Linked DNA regions of Homo sapiens. The protein of the gene in region 1 interacts with the protein of each later gene in a biochemical or structural test. Each region holds a gene or a part of one and is shown on either strand. Other genes may lie near its edges.

Evidence for each region. Proteins that work in one complex are often made in the same cells at the same time.
Region 2: the proteins of GRM1 (region 1) and EPB41L2 form a complex in vitro, tested with the Homo sapiens proteins (one study listed by BioGRID).

What each region holds. Positions count from the first base shown.
Region 1 is NC_000006.12:146,030,773-146,039,842, reverse strand, and holds part of GRM1 (metabotropic glutamate receptor 1 isoform alpha precursor), read right to left. Parts: intron 1-9,070. UniProt on the Homo sapiens protein: G-protein coupled receptor for glutamate. Ligand binding causes a conformation change that triggers signaling via guanine nucleotide-binding proteins (G proteins) and modulates the activity of down-stream effectors.
Region 2 is NC_000006.12:130,954,514-130,963,583, reverse strand, and holds part of EPB41L2 (band 4.1-like protein 2), read left to right. Parts: intron 1-7,084; 5' UTR 7,085-7,098; coding exon 7,099-7,590; intron 7,591-8,266; coding exon 8,267-8,479; intron 8,480-9,070. UniProt on the Homo sapiens protein: Required for dynein-dynactin complex and NUMA1 recruitment at the mitotic cell cortex during anaphase.

The DNA of each region.
Region 1 (9,070 bases):
GCTTATTCTAGACTTCTCTTTTTCCTTGATTCTCATAACCAATCATTCACTAAACACTAACCTCCCTGCTACATAGAAAGTCAAATTCATTCTCCTCTATCCTTTTCCATTGACACTTTCTTTAGTAAAACTCTAATCATCTCTTGACAAAATTAATTAATTGAACTGGCCTTTCCTTCTCCACTTCCCTCAACCATCAATGGCCTTCAGATTTGTCTCCTAATTTCCAATTTGACTCCTTTTCTTAATCTGTCTTCTCCAAAGCTTTCCAGATGCCCTTTCCAAAATATAATCTGATCTTGATTTCTTCCTGCATAAAATTCTTCACTGGCTCACCATGTTTCCAAGAGTCTAATTTTCTTGGCTTGATAAGTATGTCCCATCATGACCTAGGCTCTTTCTCTCTTTTCAGTTTGGTCTTCCCCACTCATTTTCCCAGGACATATACTTTAGAGTTAATGATATTCTTAGAGGTCCCTGAGCATATTTTGCTTTCTATGTCAGTGCTTTTACTGAATTTACTCCTTTGTTTCCTCGGATATAGTGAACTTCAGATGTCACCTTTTCTGGGGACCTTCTATGAGCTTTCCCTCACTGCTTCCCTGGACCAGAGGGAGCTAATCACAGTTCTCTCTGTTGTCTCTCTACCTCATGCCTACTCCTATGGTTGCACTTAGCAAAACTGAATAGTAATCACCATGTGGTGAACTTCTTAAAAGGAAGACTATAATTCCACTATCTCTACTCCTCAATGACTATAGCATTGGTCAAACCAAAGAATGTGCTACAAAACATAAAAATTGAGATAGGAATCTGGACATGACTTCTTCTCTGCCAGTAGAGTAGTACCTGTTAACCAAAACCTGAAAATAACAAATAATGTATTTATTTATCGAAAAAAAAGGATATTGAATTTCTTTATTATAAGCTGTTTCCACTATTTCAATATCCTGATATAACCTTTTAAAATCTTTCATAAAGTTTTTTTCTCTTGAACATACTATCAGCAATTTGTTTATTGATTTTTTTGTTCTACCTTTTATAACAAACAAATTATAAAATGTGTTATAGCACCACAGAGAACAGAGGAAACTGTCTCTGATTGTTTAACAATAGCTGTGGAATATGCTGTCCAATCAAAAGATTTGCATTGAGGGCCACATGCTGTGAGTGCAATTTTTATAAAGGGAGAGAATGAGAAGTTGAATATGCGCCACTCAGTGTTAGTAAATCAGCATTTTCCCTCTTTATTTTCACATCTCCACCACAGAACTTCCCTGTATTTACTTCACACAGGCTCATCTAAGCTAAGGGCATCTTCCTAATTAAGGTTAGAATAGCATGACAACAATAATGACATCTTACATCTATTACATCTACCTAGCCCTATATGGAGCACTGTTGCATCTTATCTGTATAATAAACTTAGGGGACTGTTTTCTGTATACTTCACCCTGATAGCTCTCTAAGCATGCCTAATTCTATTAATCCCTTGAGTCAATCCTATTCCAGATCTCTGGATTTCAACTCTAGCCACCCTTCTCTAATTTTCTCATCCTTATCCACTCCATACCACTTCTAGTTACTTGTGGTAGAGATGGTGTCACAGAGATGTCTGACCATGTGTCATCTCCCACTGTTAACCACAACCCTCATAGAGAAGGCATCCTTTCTTCTTTCATTTTAACAAGGTGTTTAATTCTGGTCTTATTTTACATTTCTGCCCTGAAGGAGCTGGAGAAAAAAAAATGGTTAATTCATAATCTCCTGAAATAGAGCTTCATGTGGAGCAGTCACTCTACATTGAAAGTTTATTTTCTCTGCGAAAGGACTTTTATTACAAGATGATAACAAGCACAAATATGGAGGTAGAGTTGCTCAGATGCAGAAGGGAAACCAGATCAGCTGAGAAAATGGCTTTATTCAGACCTTCCAGAGAAATGTGGAGAGCAGGTGAGGTGGGAGCAAAAGAAGTTGAAGAAAAGGAGAGGCTTCTATTTTTCAGTGACTTTCTCATGTTTAAAAATTTATAAATAAAATAGTTATTGGCAAGGCCAGGGTACCAGATTGTGGTCAGGGTAAGTGGGTTGCTAAAGAGAAGGCAAGGAACACAGAGCTGAGATCAATGAGCTATGAGGATAGGTATTGGTGGGACAAACACATGAATGTTGGAGTCATCCAAAACTAAGGTAAGAGCTGACATTAAGAGGAAGACTAACAGCAGAGTGAGTTTTCAGAAGAGGAATCTCCTAGAAGCTGCTAAATGACAGCAGCAAAGTTGGAAAGACACAGTTGAGCTAAATAGTATGGACCTCACATGAGAGGCGTGCATGAGGGTTAAAAAGGAAAGAAAGAAAGAAAGAAAACTTTGGCTTGAGAAAGTATCTAAAACAAAGCTAAATTAGTCCTAGCTTTGCTGCTGATGAATTTTATGATCTTGAGCAAGTCATTTTGTTTTATTTTTCTGGGCTTTTGTTTTCTCATTTGTAACAAGAAAGTTTCCTAAAGTCTATAGTAGATGCTACACCTTTATCTTAATCATGAATTTCATTTTAATCTTATATTACTAGGTTTAGGGTCGAAAATCTGTATCCAATTAACTGGCTTCTTGGACTTGCTTAATATTCATCAGCTGAGAAGAAGTCATCGCTTTGGTGGCAGTTTAAGAAAAACAACTGAAATGTATTTATGGGTACCATCTTCTTGTTCTTTGAAAAGCTGCTGTGAGGAATATAACATGGTAGTGATTATAATTCCCATTTTACAAATGAAACTGAGATGTGCATGCATACAGTATTTCCCATATGTTTTGTGCATTTTTCAAAACAGTAATTAAACATTTTCTTTTTAACCCATGAGCCTATAACTGTCTATATATTTACATGTCTCTTCCAACAAATATTAGTAGTAATAATAGTTATTATTATTGATTTTTATTACTTTATGTGTTACTAGCACCAAGAAAAATATGTGATGCATAATAGTCACGTGTTTATTTATAAATGTCTTTATTAGAAGGCAAATTAGTTACTAGGTAATCAAAGAATTTCTGCCTATCAAAATCCTGTGCTTCTACTACAAATTAAGGCTTTTACCTGGATATTTAGATAATTGCCTTGAATATTTAATTTGTTGGCTATGAAATAAATAAAATAGATAATCCTAAAATTGATAATTGGAGATTTCTGAGAAGCAATTCTCTTCATAAAAACATTAATGTTCTATTTGGTACTACAATGCCTTAAGTTTAAGAGAGTAAAGCTTTCTGGAATACAGAAGGTAATTAAAATTATAATTTCTCATGTAAGTTAAGATTTTAAATGTTGTAGACATTCATAGAGAACAATTAAACAGGAAAAAGTAGCAAATATTTCTATATAATTTTAGAATCTAATGATAACTCTCTGTTGCATAAGACAGTGACATTTTGACAAGGCTTTATGCCTTGTCTTGACTCTGGTTTTCAACTACAGCTTCTCTGAAAATTGACAACTTTCTCCTACTGACATGCTGTTTCCAACATATATCAGAACAGCATGTGCCATGAGTTTTTTTAGTGGTTGTAGGTGTTCACCAAACTATTCTTTTCTGGATGTGGTTCCCCAGCCCTCTGTGTTCTTAAAAAAGTGTATGCCGAAAACACGACTTTTGATAAGTCTCTTTGTGAACCCATCACTCCAGTCACTGCCCAGTTACTGAAAATCCACAAAGCAGTTATTGTATATTAGCTCCCTATATCATAAGGGCAAAAATTTTAATACTTGTAGAAGGATGGCTACTGCCAAGCCACACGGTAGAAACATAAAATGGAAGCTGCCATCACCACCTACCCTATGAAGGACAGCTTCTTATAAAATTTGCAGCAAGATAAACGTAGTCACAGGGTGATTGTGTGGCAAAGGAATCACAAAGAGTTCAAGTTTACTCAAAATAATGAAAGTGTCATTTTTTTCGTCTTTGGATTTCACTCTAATTCTATGCACATAATAGCTGTTTGCTAAATACTGATTAATGACTTTAAAAATGAGTTTAATAAATCCAGCCAAGATATAAAAGAAAAAATAAAGATAAAAATTTTTAAGTATGGCAATTTGTGGCCATTTTGAGTAATAATAAATGGCCTTATATTTTTTTAACAGGCTCCAAGATTACCACCATATTCCAGCGCAAGGTAAAAATTTATGTTCACGATAACTTGGTATATTCAAGGAAAATGTCCATTAAATTGAGCACTGTCTTTAAAAGAAGTTAGGGGACCTTACAGTAGTGTTTGCAAAGATCACCTCATAAAATGTTTTAAATGTAAATGTTGGTGTTTAAAGAGACCAACTCTCAAGTATAAAGTAGACAGCTAGAGAATCAAGGTTATGGATAAACAAGGTTTTACTTGGATATGAACACTTGTTAAAAAATTACAAATAAAGTATCTCGTAACAATATCTGGCTTTTCTTTCGTCCACTCACCAACTTTTGCCAATAATATATGTTCTCTTGGCCAAAGTTCACATGTCTAACTGTGCTTGGATGTATCTTTCTTGAAACCAAAACTCTTTGTCACATGCTTCAAGATTCTCCATTACTTGTCCTTCATGTCTATAAAGACTGATGTAATCACAGAATATTAGGACTTACTTCTGTTTTTATTATTAGTTCTTACCCCAGACTCTTTCCTCCAGATAAGCAAATCTGTTTTTTTCACACCATTACAGTACTTTCAATACTGTCTCTTTTACAAATGCTATGTTTCCAAACAAAACTCTAACCAAAATTCCCTTTTCTCCAGGTTTTCTCTAGATAATTGCACCACTAATACATTCTTTCAGTTCCCTACAATTGAATAAACTCATGTTTATAAATGTCTATACTGTGATTGCTTTTACTTACTTTACATGTATTTAAACTGCACTCCCCTTAAAGTAAAAACTACTTAGTAACCGAAATTAAGTCTTCAAAATTGTTATTTAAAGTTTTTATGCAGTAAATCTTTACTTAAAGTCATCTGTTGTGATGACTTTTCATTTAAACTACATATAGCCATTTATACATTTGCAAGGTAGTATAGTAAGAGGAGGAAAAGCACTGTATAGAAGAAATTCATAATAGGCTGAGTGAACACCAGAATTAGCCAGGTAGTTTGCTCGTGAAAGGGTTTGAGACTTTACTTTCGACCCTTATCTTATTCAGGTTTTAACGTATATGGTTAAATCCTGGAGACACAAAGCTGGAATACTAAGATAAATTAAACAATCAAAATCCCAGAACTTACTGATGTTAGAAAGGCAGATTGAAGCTAATAATTTTACATTTAAAGGGAAAAAATTCAAGTCCTCCTCTTGAATCTAATGGTAACAGTAACAAAATTAATAACTGTTCAAGCATAAAAGGAAGGAGATATGGATTAATAGCAGCACTTCTGAAAAGACCTTGGGATGTTAATTGATGTAAGATCTACTCTAGTCAGCTATGATGGTAAGGGAAGTAAAAAATGAAATGCATGAGTGAAGGAACTGGAGAGCTACACTACAAAAGAGAGATTATTCATTGATGATAAATGTCACATGGAAAAGAAGCTTGAATGTTTTGGATGACTCCTAGTCTTCAATGAAGGATTGGTGGAAACTTCAAGAAATCTGTTTTAGGTCATTACATAGAAGAACTGACTAAAAGTCAGGTGAAATTCTGCTCTCAATTTAACTCCGATATACTCCTACTCTAATTAGAAACCCTAATCACAATTAGAAAGCTTTGAGCGTGGGCAAGCACGTAATGTGATGTTCTAAGCATCTTTTATTAGTTGGCCTGAATAACCTTTCAAAACACTCCTATTTCTTACTATATGATAAAATGAGCAATGTATTAAGATAATTTCCTTTGAAGTAGGTTGCAATCAAGACAAGAAAGATATATAGAAAGTTACTGGTACATAGATAGGAAATATGATATTTAGTAGATATAAAATTATTACAGGTAATTGCATTAATCAAAGTATGTATTTATGACTTAGGAGGACTTTTTTCTGATGTCATTAGACTTTTTAATTGTTTTATATCAAATAAAAAAGTACTTAAAAAGGAAAAAATCAGATTTTGGAAAGAAGCTCAAAAAGGCCAATTTTATATAAAATGTAAGCAAATGTCAAAAAAATGTCACACCAAGATCAAAATCTAACTGGAAAGAAAAGTTTACCTTAAAGTGGATATTTTAATAAGGGAAGCAGCATCACTAAATTCATTATTATATCAATACTTATCTAAGTAACTGAGACAAAATACTAGAAGAAAGGCTTAAGATAAATAAATAAATACATAAAAGTAATGAATGAAAATTTATCCACTCAAAAAAAATTCTTGTAGCTACATACTCAAAGAACATTTTTATTGGACTTGTTCAATGCTTTGAATTTTATTAACTACAGTTATTTTTAAGTACTGTTTTCAAAAATCATTTGAAATAATAAATTTGTTTTTTTGACGGGGAATCTGTATTTTATCAGAAGAACAAAATATAGTGTCCTTGGCTGAGATATTCTTATCAGTGGTAGGCTATTTCTCTACTATATACTTAGCATATTTAAAGACTCACATTCCAGGTAGGCAGCTTGCTCCAAAGTGCATTCAAACTTTATTTGTGGATAAGGCTCCATTACTCCAATATCCTGCCTCCCCCTTGACAGGCTCATCTTAACATTTGCCTCCAGAGCTAATCATGAACAATTTCTGGAGAGTCTATTGCATTGCAGGTAACTTTATGTGTACTGATTTTCTTTCATTTTATGTAAATTGATAATTGTCATGTATCAAGTGTGGTACAAATAATATGATATAAGATTGAAAAGAATGTAAGAGAATATAAAAACTAAATTGTAACTGGTTAAAACACAAAACAAAACAGAAAATATCTGCAAGTTTAGCTTCAATATAAAAAAAAGTAATATAAAAACAACTGTACCATTCAAAAACAATATGATTTCAAGATAATCTCACAATTAACTACAGAAATGAAGGTACACTAGTCCAGTCACTTAGTGCTTTTGGTATTAACTATTCTTGGTTAACTTCTAATACAAGAAACGATGATAATGAATTGACTAGGGAATGGCTGATTTGGAAAGGAGAGATGAAGGTCACGAGAGGCCCCAGAATTTCTAAGCCCTAAGTTGCCAATATCCAGACAAACTGGCTTCCTTGCTGAATAGTGCTCAGACGACAGAGACAACCCTGATATGTGGTCTTCTCTGCTATTTGACAGGGAACTGTCACCAATAAGCGACCCCATCAGTCTGAAAGCAGTAAAATTACTAAATGATCCAAGGAAGTGCCTGTAGGCCAGTACACTATGGGGCCCTGAAAAGCAGGAGGGCAAAACCTCAGGAAAAATGAATCTTCAGTGGGACCTTACACAAAATTCCTTTCCAGATAGAAGGAAAGAAATGCAATTTAGTTTTTACAGATGTTACGTTTAATAAGAGAAGTAACTAATTCCCTTTGAGAAGAAACAAGGTATTATATATGAATGGCAAGGTGAATGGTGTAACTGCTTGGTAATAAAATAAACCCCACATATTTCTATGATGCTGTTCTGTGAACACAATGTAGTCTGGAATCAATTACTATAATAGTACGGAGACATTGTCTTTGCCATACAACACCAATCAGAAGGCAGAAAGGAAACATAGTAATCCAAACTAACACATGGGCAAAATTATAATATTAGTCCTTTCGCAGCAAAATTAGTGAAAACATGTTCAATTCATTTTCCAAAAACATAATTCTACTCCTCAGAAAGCAACCCACTATTAGCCACCTCTCACCAAATAAAACAATCTTATAATGAAATATGGAAAATAAAACCACTGTTTAAAAATAATGAAGCATTACTTCTTCCTGAAGAAAGAATTTATACTTCCAATATTAATAATCAATTATCTAGCTCAATGGGGGAAATATTATTAAATATTTAAATAAATCACATTCAATCTAGATTTTGCCATTCTCTTTGCCATCATCTTTGGATCTATCCAATGATGATATTTAACACATTTTAACTTGCTCTTTCAGGATGTTTCATTTAAGCAAGCACTAAAGAAACTATGCTAAACATTAACATGTAGTAAAGTTAAATATTAAAATATAAGGAATTAATACTTTGAGTCTTAAAAAAGTAATGAATTTTTGTTCAAAAAGAGATACGCAGTTCATGATTAAAAATCAAGCTTCAGAAGCATAAGTCAGTTATTATAAAGTTATAATATCACAGCAGATAGTTTTTTCCAAAAGCAAAATCTGAAATTATAATGTGTAATCCTATATCATTTATGTTTGTTCTGAAAATTCTGTTCCCTTTATAAAGTATATGTTTTCAATAATGATAACCATATAATCACTTCACTATGGATGCTGTCAATTTCTATAATCAGACCTCACGCCAGTAACTGAATATTATGGAAATATTAAAAAAACATGGAGCCATGCCTATGGCTTCTTGAAAGTCATTTGAGTTGAAGAAATATGAATACAGAAATACCAGCAAGATTGTCTTCTTCTGCCAGCTTATACATGTGAATTGTCCTAGATGTTAATTTATAACCAGGGCTTCAGCTTTTTCATAAACCTACTGGGGGACTTAAGAGTAGCTGAGCTCAGAAATCCCCTTTTATTAAAAAATGTATATAACCTAAGGTGAAGAGAGTCTAGAAAATCTTTATATAAAAAATTTTTGAAAATTCACATCCATAAGTCTCTGGAAAAATCAAAGCTTTTAACCTTAGGTTAATCTATTGCATTTTAGAAAGACATTATAAACCTAATATCTGCTATCCATTCATTAGTATTTTATAACTGATCTAACTTTAATTCTAATATGTAAGTTCATTGTGTTAGAAGAAAAAAGACTAGAAACCAAAACTCAAATCCAAGTGGTCACCAGTGTTATTTCTCATAAAACAAGATAATTCTTGGGGGAGTGAGGGAATCTGGATGATTTTAGCCTATAAAGTAAGAAGAAAATACATTATTTAAATTACTTACTTTTTCTTTGTAACTAAGGTACTCCAGAAGTAAAAATATAAGTT
Region 2 (9,070 bases), about 15 Mb from region 1:
TTATTGCAACTGGATGTTATTGAAAATTATGCCTTAGTTTTCATATACCCCTGTCTCCAACATATGAAGAAAGGGACTCATATGTTGATAAAGTAAGATTTTTTTTGGTTTCATTCTTATTTAGAGTTGTTAGAGTAAAGAATTAGTGATTTATCTCACTAATATTAACTCAAGTATTAGGTTTTTAAAAATTGAACATCATTTGGAAAAAATGGAATACTTTGACAACCATAGCTCTTAGTTATGAGGGTTGTAAAATGCAGTGGGAGTAATAATGACCCAAGATCTATATGTACTCTCAGTTTCTTAATCCTTATTTTCTAATGCTCTCCTCAGAATATGCAGAAGTCAACATCAAGATGTTTTTGACTACAAGTAACTGAATCCCTGGCTCATTGAGCCAGAGAGGAGTATGTGATTTCACAAACAGGAAGCTCCAGCACAGGACTGGGCCATGTGTGGCGCGATCAAGGAGCTGGTCCTCTTCTCTGTGATTCTCTTGCCAGTGTCCTTTGTTGTGTGTCAGTGTGTCATCAGGCTTATTCTTCTCTGTGGATTCAAGATGACAACAGCATTTAACAGAGTTATGTATACAATGTTCAGAGACAGCAGAAGGGGCCTCCTCTTCCTCTGGCTCTTTTTAGAGGGAGAGATCCTTTTCCAGAAGCCCACCAGTGGACTTCGTGCATATTTTCTTGCCAAGGGGTGGGAGACTACCATGATTGCCCTAGACCAATAGAAGCTACCCTTGAGGCCAATCTGGAGCTAGCCTCTATTGAAACACATGTGGAAGGGGGGAAAGTGGAACAAAATTTAGGTTCTATTAAAAAGGAGAAAGAGTGGAAGAAATATATCTGAATGTCACCTGATCCCATCTAGACTTGAACTAGGGAAGATTGTAGTTCATATGTTTTGTATGTGTGGGTTTAATTTAAACCGGATATTAGTTTACATCTTTATAGTAATAGCTCTGTCTAATAGGTCCCTTATCCTTTTAAAAATAAATAAACAAGTGATATAGTGGGTTATAAAGGTAACTAGGGTGAGCAGCATTGGATTACTTGTTCATCCTCCCCATATAGATAATATGAACTAACAAATAGTCCCTTTGGAATGTATTTATACTTACTTGAATATGAAGTATGGTATTTTCTAGACCATCTGACACTTAAGAAACATAAACCTGTGAGGGTAAGGACTTACTTGCACTCTGCTCTAAGTCTGCCTGTTTTTGTTATTCCTTCTTCCTCTCCAGATATTTCTTCTTCCTTGTTCCCCTTCCCACCCCACTTCCTCCTTCCCCTCTGCCCCACCTCTCCTGCCTCTTCCCCTTCTCCTTTTAAATGATGAATATATTTGAGAAGCATCACCTCTTTATTTCCCAAGTAGAGTTAGGTGGCTGCTGAATCATTTCTACATTTGTTTTTTTTCCCTCACGTTTGATGGCATCAAATAGTGCATTATTAAAAGACCTTCTCTTTCAATAGCTATAGGCCCTTCGGGGAGGTGAACATACAAGCACGTGATTGTGGGTATCAGCAGGATGCTCTACATATCCTCTACCCACAAGCAGATGAAAACTAGTTTTATCCGATGTAGAAAATGGCCAGAACTGTCTACACATTGCCAATATGTTTTAAGTTCAATGGTTATTTGTTGCAAAGTTTTGTTGTTTTCTCAAAGCTCAAATGAAAGCCTCCCTCCATCCTCTTGCTACCATTTTTGAAGCTTAGAAATACATACCTTCCCATTTTGTGAATCTTGGATCCTTACAAAATGGGTTGAGCTCTCTTGGTAGAAATTAAAGACTCTCATATTGCTTGTGATCTCAGCAAAGAATGGGAGCTACTCAGCTGGCAGCAGCACCTACCCTGTTCCCTGCTCAGGGGTTTTGTTAACAGTAAGGTCCCAGTTTCCTCAATGTTTTAAGGAAACATCTGAACCCAAGAATTAGCATGAACCCCTTGCTTGAAGTTGTTTGTGTGTTTGTGAGGTTGTGTATCTGCTTTGCTTTGCTTGCTGTAGTATTCTGATTAAGGGCCAATGTTTTAAGTAGCATGATGTTATATGGTTGGCAGTTCAGCCTAGTGATAGAGATAGCACATTAGAATTTACCTCCTTTTTTAAACGTTGGAAAAAAAAGAATGGGTTTATGTAACACAGCTCCTTACCTAACCAGTACTGATCCTCTATTGATGATGGTTTTCTGCTTCATTGCATGTTAAATGATGCATGCTTTTTCTCATGAAGCTGTCACAATGACGAACACTTTTATCAACCCAGATGGAGCATGCCAACATGGTAATTGTGTCAAAACCACATGCTTGTCTAATGGGCGGGCTGTTCACAGCAGTGTTCTTTTTAGTTGATGATAAGTAGAAAGATCATTACTTAATGTATTATATAACTATACTAATGATGGATTTTGGGTAATTATAATTAAATATTAGTCAATGAGCATTGCCAGAGTTTGGGAAACCTTAGTTCCAGTTTTGGCTTGCCCATCTGACTTTACCATCTCAGGCAAATCTCCTGGTCTTTCTGATCCTCAGTTTGGTTGTTGATAAAATAAAGTGAGGATATTAGACTAGATGATTGAACAATACTCATTTAGTAAGTACTTAATAGATACCTATTATGTGCCAGTCTAGATGCTGGGAACATAGCAGTATATAAAAGAGAGATCCCAGCCCTCATGGAGTTTTCATTTTAGTGGGAATGTCAGCATTCCACTACAAGAGTTCTCATTTTCATGGGTGATAGAGTTTAAAGGCTTATCCACATATGAAAGAAACTCAGGGTTATAGGCATGATAATTAGGGTGAGTGGATGTACTGTAATCATGTTTTCTTGATGGTGGTAATTTGTTCAAGAAGCCATTTTATCAACAAAGAAGGTAGTGTTTTGTTTTGAGCTCTGTTGAACTCTTGAAACTGTTTCAAGAATATGTTGAGTAATGATCCAATTAGTCTTTTCCATTGTTTTCTGTCTTGTAACTTCCATTTGGATGGGTGACACTGATCATCACTTTTGAGGCTCTTAACCCTTATGGGTGTTGTGAATACAGTGGTGATTGAGGATGACTTCGTGAGGCTTAACCATATGGTTTTGTCGGTGCTCTTCCTGTCTGTATTTGTACTTTGTCTTCAGTGTCTGTCAACCAGCTCAGTTATGATTACATGGTCAAGCAATAACGTACAAATGGGATTTTCTTTGTTATTTAAATTCATCTATAAATTTCTTACTTTTAAGAGAGAATATTTTGAATAAATCTGAGAATACATTTATGTTATTTCATAGTCATTTTCACTAACTGGCAGGAACCTTCTTTGAGTACTAGGCCAAGGACTCTGTGGTTGAGTAGGTCATTCGTGCATAATGGAGCTGTGATTGCATTATGAAGTGTGTGTGAGGGAAGGTATACACAGCTGTGTGGTTCTCCATTAGTGGCTTTGGATAAGTGACTACTGTTTATTATTTGTAAAACAGGGATAATACATACTTTGTAGAATATTTTGAGAAACAGATTATGGGCACTGTGTCAGACAGTAAACAGTGAGTGGAAACCCTTATGATTAAAATATAAACAACTATTAATGCTTTTAACATAATAGTGGAAACTCAAGTTTTATATTTCACTGCTTCTAAAATATTTTGGCCAAAAATCAGCCTTAGTTGATTGGTTCCCAGACTATTTCTCACAGCCAAAGTAATTAGAGAGCTGCCAATTTATCTTGGTTAGCTTAGACAAGTATGGGGCATTTTGGTTTTAATTTTACCAGGACATTTATTCAGCTCTCAGAATGTAATTAGAGAGCATATACTAGAAATACACTTTGGTTATTTCATGATTAAAGTAAATAATATTGTCCACTTAAATAGTACATGGGAAATGGTATGTTAAAGAAGGAAAAAAGGTTTTCTGTGCAATATGGAGCCAGTTTACCTGTCCTCGGGTCTTGCTGGAAGACATACTTTTGAATTTCAGATGCCTGAGAATGAGAAGCAGCAAAGAATATGTGGGTATAATAGTTAACTATTCCCTCTTACGTAGCATTGCTGTCAGGGATATTACTGTCTCCTGATCTCCCTGCCTCACTACATATTTCTTCTGGCCCTCATGCCTTTTCTTCTGCCTCACCTTATATGTTGATGGTGATAAGAGCTCTTTTAAGGATCCTCTCAGTTTAAGCTACCCTTTTTCTCTAGGTGATGTATCCCCATGTGATGACAACATCCAAACCCTATCTCTAGTGTGTATCTAGTCTCCAATCAAAACCTGTGTGTCTTGGGGTCATCTAGACATCTCCACAACCTCTCAATCACAATGAATTCAAAATTGAATTATATGTGTCAGCCAGACCCACTTTTACAGGTGTTCCCCATTTCCATGAATGGTTCTACCATCACCCTAGTCTTCCTTGACCTGGGCCTTTTCCTTAGCTCTTTCCTCTCTTTGACTTTCTATATTCAGCCCGGACATCAAGTCATATCCACTCTACCTCTTTACCATTAGATTAATTTCTTGTTCTTTACCCTACTGTTTCTGCTGTAGTATATATAGACCATCGTCTTCTCAGGTCTGGATCAACCAGAGATCAGATCAACCCAATCTCCTGGATGTCTTTCTGCTTCAGTCTTTTCTTTCATCCTGTGCTTTACAGCCAGGTTGCGCTAAGTGAAATGAGAATCTTATTACATTTCTCCTCTACTTCAAGTACTTATGTAACTTCTCATTGCTTTTCAAATAACCCCCACATTGCCTTTAAAATAACACAAAATCTTTTATGTTTTGGCTTCTGCCTTCCTTTCTTACTTCATTATTACCAGTTCAGCTTCCGCCTGTCCTGTCTTCACTCATAAGCCCCCACTTCACTTGTACAGTGGATTATTGTTCTGTGCCTGTGGTTTCCTTTTTTATGAGGAATGTTCTCATGTTTCCACACAACTCCCTATGCCTGACACATACCTTCCATTCTGGCTATTTTGTCTGAATAATGAGTACCCATTTAAAAAATAAACTCAAATGTCAACTTCTGCAGAAACGCCTGCCTGGTGACCCTCTTCTTCTCCTAACCTGGCTTAAGTCCTTTGCTTTTTTTTTTTTTTTTTTTTGTTGTTGTTGTTGTTTTGAGACAGGGTCTTGTTTTGTCGCCTAGACTGGAGTGCAGTGACACAATCTCGGCTCACTGCAACCTCTGCCTCCTGAGTTCAAGCTATTCTCTTGCCTCAGCCTTCCGAGTAGCTGGGATTACAGAGACGTGCCACCACGCTCAGCTAAGTTTTGTATTTTTAGTAGAGATGGGGTTTCGCCATGTTGGCCAGGATGGTCTCGAACTCCTGACCTCAAGTGGTCCACCCTCCTCGACCTCCCAAAGTGCTGGGATTACAGGCATGAGCCACTGCACCTGGCCTAGTCCTGTGTTTTTTGTGCAACATGCTATTGACTTAATGTATGCTTATTTGTAGCCCTCACTCCCTTAGCTCCTCAAAGGTTGTCTTTATTCATGTGCCCATGAACTTACCACATCGTAGAAGCCATTATATAGGTGAATTGACTTGACTGTTTTTGTGGTTGCATATTAGATGTGAAAAACATTTTTAAGTTATTTTTATTGAGAAAATTTACATATCACAAAATTCACCCTTTTAAAGTATACAATCCAGTGGTTTTGGATATATTCGTAAGGTTGCCAGGGGGCGACGGGGAATGCAGAGTGACTACTAATGGGCACAGGATTTCTTTTTGGAGTGATGAAAATGCTCTAGAATTAGTGGTGGTGGTTGTACCACTTTGTGAGTATACTCAAAATCACTAACTGTATACTTTAAGAGGGTGAAATTTATGGTACATGAATTATATCTTAATAAAGCTTTAAAACAAGTGTACTTTTTTTTTTGACTTATTCAAGTTTGTACCACTTAAAAAGTTAACACAATTTTTTTTTTTTTTAAGAGATGGGGTCTCACTCTGTTTCTCAGGCTGGCCTCAGACTCCTGGGCTCAAGCATGTTTCTTGTCTCAGACTCCCAAGTAGCTGTGACTACAGGAATAACCATGTCCGTCTCTTAAGTTTTTACCACCTTTGAAGATAGCTGGGACACTACTCGTTGTCCAGGGTGCCAGGACTCTGGGCACTTATTATTGGCAAGGGAGGGGAGAGCGAATGTGATCGGCTATCTCCGCAGGCCCCGCCTGTTGTTCTTTATGTCAGCGTGCTGTAACACTTTAAAAGTCCCTCTTTGCTTATGTAAAATTTAGTTATTTTCAGAATTTATTTAAATTTTGTTCTAATTAGTTATGATAAGAACAATCGTCAGATGCATTTTTTCCACCTCATAATGTCCTCATTTGGTTTGGATTATGGCCCTTAAATATTTTTCTTATATATAGAAAGAAAAGTGTGATTATGGTTGGGTGGGATGGAGGTTCGGAGTTTTGATTAGAATTTGAGTACCTTTTCCAAGATTAACTTTTGCATTGGAACAGTGATGGTGAATTACGGGATTTAATATTGGAACACAGAATAATACATTTTTGTTATTTTACCTTCTTGGCTGTTACACACCATACACTTAAAACTGTTTTTTCTAATACCTAACATTTTGATAGATTTTGGGTTTAATGTATGAAATTGTAGTGAAATGTGTCTCATTGCTTTCTAGCACTGTTGATAACATCTTCCTGTTACAGAATAAAGAATACCAAGTACAGATAAAAGTAATTTTTCTTAAAAAACTTGGATTTTAGATATCAATTATTGTTTATAACAAGTTGAAACCAAATAAAAGTAATCCCTGTTTCTTGAGTTCTTGATGATTTTAAGTTCTAGCTATATGGAACTCAGAACACACAGAGTTCTATTGTGATGCTAGTTTTGGGTCTGTGATGCTGATAGAGAATTCTAAAAGTTCGAGCAACAGTCTCCATTTTGTCTTGTGCTTTTGAATCTTCTTTCTTGATGTGCTTTCTCCCTGTCATCTGTTACTCTTCTTCTCATCTTTCCTTACCATGCCCCTCGCAACCAAACTAAATTTGAGAGAACTTACAAAATGACATTTTATGATTTTTGTTTTGATTACAGCATAAGCTGTGGCCATGACTACTGAAGTAGGCTCTGTGTCTGAAGTGAAGAAGGACTCTAGCCAGTTAGGAACAGATGCAACCAAGGAAAAACCTAAAGAAGTAGCAGAAAATCAGCAGAATCAGTCTTCCGATCCAGAGGAGGAAAAAGGTTCCCAGCCACCTCCTGCAGCTGAAAGCCAAAGTAGTCTACGCCGCCAGAAGAGAGAGAAGGAAACATCGGAGAGCAGGGGTATTTCTCGGTTCATACCGCCATGGCTTAAGAAGCAAAAGTCATATACCTTAGTAGTGGCCAAAGATGGAGGAGATAAAAAAGAGCCTACCCAAGCTGTTGTTGAAGAACAGGTCTTAGATAAAGAGGAACCCCTTCCAGAAGAACAGAGACAGGCTAAGGGTGATGCTGAAGAAATGGCTCAGAAGAAACAAGAGATTAAAGTTGAAGTCAAGGAAGAAAAACCCTCAGTGAGCAAGGAAGAAAAACCCTCAGTGAGCAAAGTGGAGATGCAGGTATGTTTGGGAATAATTGCCTGGAAATGAAAACCTGATAGCGTAACCACATAATAAAAAGGGTTTGTTTGTTTTGGATCATTTCCAGATTTCTTGTACTGAGATACTGCTTTAGCTTAATGTATACGGAATGGGTCTTAGATTGGTCTACCATAGCCTTTCCCTGTTACTCCTTGAAAAAAAAGTCCCCTATATATACCAATTACTAAAAAATTCATGTCTGTAACCTGTTTAGGTGAGGTAGATACTCCGAGCCCTGCCATCTCTTTTTTAAACAGAATGCTCTTTTATGCCTCTTTAAGTTTTCACTGGACAGTAAGTAGTAGATTTGTGTGTGCGCATTTTAGTTGCCTAACAAAGCCTAGGTTTTGCCATGGTATAAGATTTTAATTGGAAATGTTATTATTTGAGATGATACTTAAATTGTAGTTGCTGGGATGTAGTTTCTTTGATTCATTTAATGCCAAATAACCAACTTGGCAAAATGAGAATTTTGGCCATGAAAAGAGGATGAGGGGAAATATCCTTTCTATTGGAATTTTCAAGTCTTTAAAAATCTGAAAGTTACAGTGTTTAAAGTAACGATCCTAATTCTTATGAAAGATTTTCCTTTTAGTATGTTGTCATCTGCAAGGTGGTTGACTATAGTATGAATTTATTTTTTTTTCCTCAACAGCCTACTGAATTAGTAAGTAAGGAGAGAGAAGAGAAGGTAAAAGAAACACAGGAAGACAAATTAGAAGGAGGAGCAGCAAAAAGGGAGACCAAGGAAGTGCAGACCAATGAGCTGAAAGCAGAGAAGGCATCTCAAAAAGTCACCAAGAAGACCAAAACTGTCCAGTGTAAAGTGACCCTCTTAGATGGCACCGAATACAGCTGTGACCTGGAGGTGAGATAGGGAGCTGAGTGAGAGCTAGCTTGATATGTGGATTGTGGCATGGCATGATGAATAGATTTTTGTGTTTTATTAAGTTCCTGTAAGCCAGTTGATTACAGTTTTGCACTAAAAAAAATACATTGAAGTGGGTCATCATTTCTGTCACAAATATTTCATGACCTTGGGATAAGCAGGGATGCTATTCTGCCAGTCTGCACTAGCCGTGTTTACTGGTTCGTGTGTTAATGACTGGGTGTTAAATATTTGGAATATTGCTTTTGGCTAGAAGATGTTTTTCTTGAGGAAAAATGATAGCACTAGGCTGACATTTCAGAATAAAGAAGTTTCAGCAGTAAACTTAGCCCCAAGTGTTTTATCCTGAGACAGATACTGGCTTAACATCTAATTTATTTACTTTCATTTAATTAAAAAACATCTATGATTTGCAAAACATACAGTTCATTAGCGCTGGTGCTGACAGAAGTCACTTTAATCTTTTAACGCATCTAGTACCTTATAATTTTATGTCAATCAGAAGAGTTTGTTGCTTTCCACAAATTATTTACGTAACGTATACTAATAGCTAATGTTTGCTGAAGAACT